Linked DNA regions of Homo sapiens. The protein of the gene in region 2 interacts with the protein of the main gene of each other region in a biochemical or structural test. Each region holds a gene or a part of one and is shown on either strand. Other genes may lie near its edges.

Region 1 (3,500 bases), on a different chromosome or scaffold from region 2:
TCATGAAATTTCACAGTGATTTCTGGGGTGGGAGCAGAAGGAAGGCTGTGTTAAGAATCATCGGGGCTGTGGCCCAGTCAGCCCGCGGAGGTGCAGGCAGGGTGGGCCCTCACTGGGGCAGCTGGAGGAGCACGGACTGCCCCGCTGGCAGGTAGGTGATGTTCCGAGAGCGTGAGAGCTGGTACGCGATGTCCTCTGCAGCTTCCAGCTTGCGCAGCTCGATCAGGCCATCCCCTGCAGTGGCCAGTGAGTTGGCAATCAGCTCAGCTGCCTTGGAGTCGCCCTCAGCAGAGATGATGGCCGCCTTTTTCTGTTGCTCAGCCTAAAAGAATGGAGGTGGAGACAAAGATCAAACCTCAGGGCACCGCATGTCAGGCTACAACCAAAGGCCCTTCACCAGAAAGCCACCTTCCCAGGCTCCTGAAGGAACTCGGGGAGTTTACTTCCTCCTGATGGCTAGCGGGGGAAGCGGGGGGAAGCAGAGCACATTGCCCACCAGTCCTCCCCTATCCTTTCATGCTCACTCCTTGTCACGGGAGGGATACATCTCTGTTGGCTGCAGGAATATTTGTCTTATTTCAAAGTCCTCATTAATATTAATTGCAATCTAGTTTAACAACCCTACTCTGAGCCAGGAGAAGCCAAGGCCAAGGAAAACAGAAGCAAAAGAAAGGTGGAATCAATCCTCAAGGCTCATCTTTTCCTCCAGCCTTAAGTCTAAAGGACTTCATCAAAGCCAGGACAGGGCCGGGTGTGGTGGCTCATGCCTGTAATCCTGGCACTTTGGGAGGCGGAGGCAGGAGGATCACTTGAGCCCAGGAGGCCAAGGCTGCAGTGAGCTATGATCATGCCATTGCACTCCAGCCTGGGCCACAGAGCTGTCACAAACAAACAAACAAACAAACAAACAAACAAAAAACCTCGGGATGGCTAAGGAAGAGCAGCATGCACTTTTGACTGTTCCTAGAGCTGCCTGTGAGTTAGGCTGGTTCCTGACCAGAATCCAGGCACCCAGAGTGAGATCTCCTAGGCTTGCCCTACCAATATCAATAGGAAGACAGCTCTCTGCAACGTGTGACCTTCAGGAGTGTGAGGAAGAAGACAGTATTAAGCCTCCCTGAAATTACATACAATTTTGAAATGACTGGGCCCTGCGTCTATTTGCTCAACAAACATTTACTGTATACCTACTATCACCAGGCACTGTACTAGACTTATTATAATCTCTGAAGTTATGGCAGATACAAAGCAACACAAGTCTCTGCCCACACAGTGTTTTCATTCTCCAAAATTAAATCTATCCCTCTTTTCCCATTTTATTTCTTGCTGTCCCCATCTCCCCACCAATTAGGGATACTGGTGGTGGGAAGAAGGGGACAACAATAAATGAACATGTCTTTGCAAATACCAGAAAGACCAGGCTGCTACGCAAATACACTGTGTCCCATCACATTCTTTGACACATCTGGATGGATTTAGCACTAGAAAAAAATCTAGTGACGAAAGCACATCTGGTGCAACGTTTGATCTTTTTTGCTGTCAGCTTTCACTATGTAACTATGGTTAAAAATGACTTCTCAGTGAAGCTGAAAATACTCCAGGAGAAACATTTTTATTTGTAAGAGAGTGTTTTTGATCTCAGAGAAGTGGAAGAAAAATTACCCTTCAGTGATTTAGGAACATAACTCCACATATCCTTGACTAGCCCCTGAAGACTCTGGAACCAATTGCAGAAGTACAATTCCTTCAAGCCCCTTCTGATTATCCCGGAAGAAGGGATGACAGATGATGAATTTCCAGGCCACCCAGCAAATGGGGAAGCTGAGTGCCGGAGAAAGGGGAGAGAGAGGCTCCTGCCATCTGGTCGAAGGCTCACCTTTTCCACCACAAATCTGGCCCTCTCTGCTTCCTGCTGAGCCACCTGTTTGGCTTCCACCGCTTCTGTGAACTCCTTCCCGAAGGTCAGATGTGTCTAAGGGGAGAGAGTGAGCACAAGATGAGGCAGTGTGATTGCTTCGACAGCACTGCTGGGAGGGCTCCATGGCCGCTGGAAGAAGAGGCCAGCAATGGCTCTAGCAGCTGGAGGCATCCGTGAGGCCAGAACACTCTTCCACCTCCGTATCTGTATCCAAACTGAGTTTACACCCAGACTCTCTGGCTGCCCAAACTGCTCCTGTATATTACTCTGTCACTCTCAGTACAGTGACCTCATGTAGCAAATGGCACCGGGGGCTTTTGATGGGGCCCACAGGCACCAGAAGGTATCTACTCAATCGACCACCTCCCCAGAGGAGGAGAACTGTGGGTTCTAAGACCCCCGCCACTGACTAGTGCTCTTCCAAGGGCCTTTGATGCCTTGTTCAAAGCCCAAGGAAGGCCAGATGGAAAACAGGGTCCCTGAGAGTGAGGGAGGCAGCTGGTTCCCAGGGATCCAAGAGCCTGATGCTCTCTGTTTATGGATTAACCAGTCCGCGTCTTCCCACAGCAGCTCCACCACTGAACAGGAAGAGGACGAGGGACGGTGGAACGCAAATCATGGTATTCCCAATGTGAATGGTTCTGTTAAACGGTTTAAAAGAAAGAGAAAGCAGGTAAAGTCATTGGTCGGCATGAGGGTTTAGAAGTCTGATGATCCATAGACCTTCCCTAATCATGTCAGGTCTGACGGGACTGTCCCTAAAGATAGCACAAACAATGGGAAGGGACCTCAGAATTCCTAATGCCCAGCCTAGAGCAATTTACTTATTCATCCTAATTTTTATTGAAAAAGAATCAAGAGAAGAGCATTGGTTTTGCCATCAAATTCTAGTTGTTTCATTTCCTCCACTCTCCCAACCTCTGCTTTTTAAAAAAGCAGCTCCAAACTTCTCCTGAAGAGTAAATCCTGGTCTCATTCTCTTCCAGAATTTTTAACCTCCTAACTCTAACTGCAGCTGTTGTACTTCGCCTGATCCATTTCTAGTTTCTTAGTCAAAGTTTGGGTAAGAAAATCTGATCCTGAGACATGAAAAATGAAATGTATAATTAAGGAATAAAATTTATTTCTACAAGGGCCAGCTGAGGGCAGCAAATTCCCCATGAAACCTAATTTTCTTCTCACACCTTAGATAGGGTTTCTTGTGGTCAGCCCACATTTCCCCAGAATGGAGTATGTGGTTAAAGTCTAGTAAAATGCCAACTTTTCCCTTAGGTTTTTACTCAGCGTTTTCTCACAGCCAAGGTGTTCAGGTTAACGGTAATTACGAGGGAAGGGCCCACAGAATGGCTGCAGCCTGGCCTCTTGCCAGCAGAGGGAGCCCCAAGCCCCCAGGACTTCCAGCAGGCGGAGCAAGGTGGAGCAGTGCCCAGGGGTTAGCACTGGGTGTTGTCAAGTGGCTGTTTAAACAGCTGCACAGATGCCGGGGGAGGCAGTGCCTTTCCCTAGCAATGCACGGGAGAACTGAACAGGAAACACTTTACCTCACTGCCCGAACAAATCACTCCAAATGGTTTTTCCCAGA
Region 2 (3,931 bases):
GCGACACTGAGAATGTCTATTACTTATTCCCTGCACCTCTCTCCCCAGTAAAAGGGAAAGATCTCACTGTCAGGACACCTAAAATTCCATCATCAGAGAAGCACCAGAGACTGTTACCAGTCTTCAGGTGTCCCTTCACTTGTGGCCTGCTGCCACGGCAGCTGTTGACGGCTATTGCTTCCCTGGGAAATGGGGATCAGACTCTGGGTCCCCAGTGCGAGAGCATCAAGGTTTGGATGGGGAGACACAGCAATGCAAAAACCAAGCTTGGTGGACTTCATCATTTTGCCTAGTGGTAGCTGCATATGTAAGCTGACAAATATGTGTGACTGTGCCCCTAAGGGTGTATTTTCCCCAGAGAGTGTCTTTGTGTTTTTTTTTTTTAACCCCCACACACACACCCATGTATGTGTGTATATCTGCATGCATATATATGTGTGTGTGTGTCTGTGTGTCTGTGTCTATAACCAATCTTTAAACATTGGCATTGTCAGTTTCCCGATCTAGCAAATGTAGTAAAATATTTCAATGACACTTTTACCAGTAATTAAGCTGCTTACCTTCACAAAGCCTTCAAACTGGCTTTTAATCTCCTCACAGTTCAGTAAGGATAAGGATCTTTCTCCTGTGTTGCATCTCTGTATCGTTTTCATGAATACAAAATCTTCATGAAGATTCCTTTCATCTTCTATCTATTTTGGAATAACAAGGATATGATAAATGTCATTCGGAAGGAGAATACAGCTAATGATATCTGCCTCTACATTCATTTCCACGGCATCAACAAGAGGAGGACTTTCAGGCATAAATGGAGAATAATAAGTTATTATATTGGCTGATTGCTATTTTGTATTTGCAGTTTAAAAATCTATAAAAGACAGCAATTAAGATGTCATGTTATCAGAAACTCCAGGTAGAAATCAGAGCTATTCTACTAAATGTTCACTACAAAATGCATATTTTTTCAACATACTATAGCAGCAATATTCTGTAATTGTCACATTTCTCATTGCTTCAGTAATGATTGGTCATTATAAACATCAGCCTAGAAAATAGTTTTCTGCAGAGCTAATTTGCCCACTTCATTTTAGTGTTTGTGATGCAGTGCTTTATAAAAAGAAGTTAATTTGCAATGTGTCAGTTAACGAGTTCTAATTACATCTCTCTCCCTTTTAACTTTAGTATTTGTAGAAAACATTTGCATTTTTAAAGAAATCATCTTTTATCCTCAAAGTAACAAGATATTTTATTTTCCAATGTCTTAGAATAATTAAATGTACAGAATTCACTTGCATTATCAACTAATTTTATACCATTTTCTTGCTTTAAGAGTAGATTTTTTAGATTCAAAACAAGATTCAGTTAGCTGGCAGCTTCTGCTGTAATTAAGAGCACATGTAAATAGTACGGTAAATATCAGTCCACTGAGGTCACTATTGCCCCTTTAGAAGCTAGGCCTATGTCCATACATTTGATTGACAGAGCACATCAGGCCAAACACAAATAACCAACCAGACCAGAAGCCCCCTCTTTTGTCAGCAGTGAAACCTAATATTTGGATAACCCAGTGGATGACTTCAGCCCTCACTACCTCACCTTATCCTGTTAGAAAAATCTCATGACATTAATTCTAGGTCCAGATCCTAAGAGAGGACACTCAAGTATCCCTGATAAAGTGCAATCATCCAGATGCTTTCTAGCCACAGTTCCTGCATCCAGAATTTTAGGAACAGCCAGAAAACTAATCAACTTTCTCCTTTACATCTATGATTGGTATTTTGTCAACACCAGCCAATTATACTCCTCAGTGGAAGTGAAAAAATACATGAAAACAAAATAAGTCCTGATGGTTTTCTTTTCCTAAGAATGCAAAACAGCCTACTAAGTTACTCTGCTCTTTTGTTCCTGCAAGTCTAACCATTTAAAAATGTAAAACATCTCAGAGGGAGACTGAGCATCCTGCAACTACAATCAGTGCTTGTGAAGAATTACACAGAAAATGCTACTTTTACTAAAAGACTGCAAATTCTGGGACTTATCCATGTCTATGTTAATCTGAAGCATTATGAAATTTTAGATCAAATTGACGCTCTTCTTGCCTAGCTGGAAATTTAAAAGAAAAAAGCTGTCTCCATAAAAAAATAGCTTACTTTTAAAGCAGAACTTTAGCAAATAATTATAGCTAGTGCGTACATAGTGCTTACTATGTATCAGACCCCCTCCTAAGCTTTTTACAAGGCTAAACTCACTTAATCTATGAAATGGACACCAATACCATCCCCATTTCTCAGATGTGGAAACTGAGGCACTTGCCCCAGGATAACAGAGATGGTATGGGCAGAGCCAAGATTTGAACCCAGGCAGTCTGACTCCAGATCCCAAGATCCTAACCAGAGACAAGAATATGAGACTTCATTGACTAGGCAACAAACATTATGCCACAAGACCATTCTTCTATTTGGTTTCTACCATCATCCATCATTTGGGTAGAACCAACCTATGAATTAGTAAGGACCCCAAATTTAGTTAATAAAGGCTTGTGGTTCATCTTACCTTGTCCAACCTTCTATGAAGATACACAGCAAAAAGTGCTGACCCAATCATCTGGGTGATAAGAAAAACAGTAAGTAAATACATAAAAATTTTCATGCTGATGGGCAGTCCAGTGGCCGCAGATCGGGGAGAAGTTTGGTTGTATGTTTCGATCATGCTGTGTTAAAGTTGAAATGGTATCTTCTGGCAGAGAAGGTGGCAGAGGCAGCATGAGAAGACTGTCAAAGTGGCCACCTTACTCAGGATTAGTTAAGAGCGCACAATCGTTGCAGCCCACACTTCCTGGAAAATGTGCTTCGTAGTCTTCTCTCCCAGCAAAAACGTTACGTAAAGGTTTTTTGTTTTTTTTTTTTTTTTTAATTATACCCATATCATTCACTTCCAGGCTTTCCTTTTTGTAAGTAAAGAAGAAACAAGTTTCTTCTTCCATATATTCATTCTTGCCTTGAAATGTCATAGACTTCTTAACAGACAATGGCAGTATTTTCCTATCACTGTCTAACTTTTTGGGTTCACCAGTTTCAAGGAAAGTGACAAATTCATCCACCAGCAATAGACTTATTTCAATTTCAATCTTACTAATACGAAGCGGGAACCTGGTATATGGAGAAAGAAACACATGTCAACAAAAGTTTGGATTGATTTTATGACTGGTGTCCCATCAACTAATTGCTTCTCAGAACTTTACTTCTTTAATCACTAAACTCAATGAAAGCCTGGCAGGTTTTCAGGTCAAGTCTACATGGCATAAAGCAAAAAAAGCATGCTGATGGTTATTAAATAAAATTTAGCTGGAAAGATAATGCAAGAAAAATAAATTTTGCAAAGGCAAAGATAAGTAGGGTCTTGAGGGAAATCAGGCCAAGACTCTGGAATTGAAGTTAAAGTAAAAATCGTGACTTGACGTAGCTAAGCTGCCTGTGTACACTGTTCCAATCCATTAGATAATTGTTGATGCTGATGTAACAGTTCAGAATAGGGAAAATAGGCTGCAGTTAAGAGATCTGAATTCTAGTCTTTGCTCTACCAATAAATTGCTATGAGCCTTGGGCAAATCACTTCATCTCTTTAGACCTCAGTTTCCTCATACCCAAAGGAGGCACTTGCACCTGTCTTGCTTATCCTGTAGGTTGCTGTGAAGATCTAATAAAGATGTGCATGGAAGAAATTTGAAACACGTTAAGCAATAAACAATTCTCATCCTGAATTTTTTGGAATTTATTTAGCCTAAGACATGAGTTTAACAAATAATTGCCAACTCCTTACATGTTGGTAAAAACCAAATGAACAATAACAATATTAAAAACACCTTAAGTTTTGACAATGAATTGAATCACTGAAGTGTGTAGGATTACACATTTCTGAAGGGCTTTTGCAT

What was found.
Region 1: the proteins of CD40LG (region 2) and PHB1 form a complex in vitro, tested with the Homo sapiens proteins (one study listed by BioGRID).

The regions. Positions count from the first base shown.
Region 1 is NC_000017.11:49,404,883-49,408,382, forward strand, and holds part of PHB1 (prohibitin 1), read right to left. Parts: intron 1,973-3,500; coding exon 1,877-1,972; intron 323-1,876; coding exon 110-322; 3' UTR 1-109.
Region 2 is NC_000023.11:136,647,027-136,650,957, reverse strand, and holds the start of CD40LG (CD40 ligand), read right to left. Parts: upstream 2,801-3,931; 5' UTR 2,710-2,800; coding exon 2,554-2,709; intron 693-2,553; coding exon 561-692; intron 1-560. UniProt on the Homo sapiens protein: Cytokine that acts as a ligand to CD40/TNFRSF5. Costimulates T-cell proliferation and cytokine production.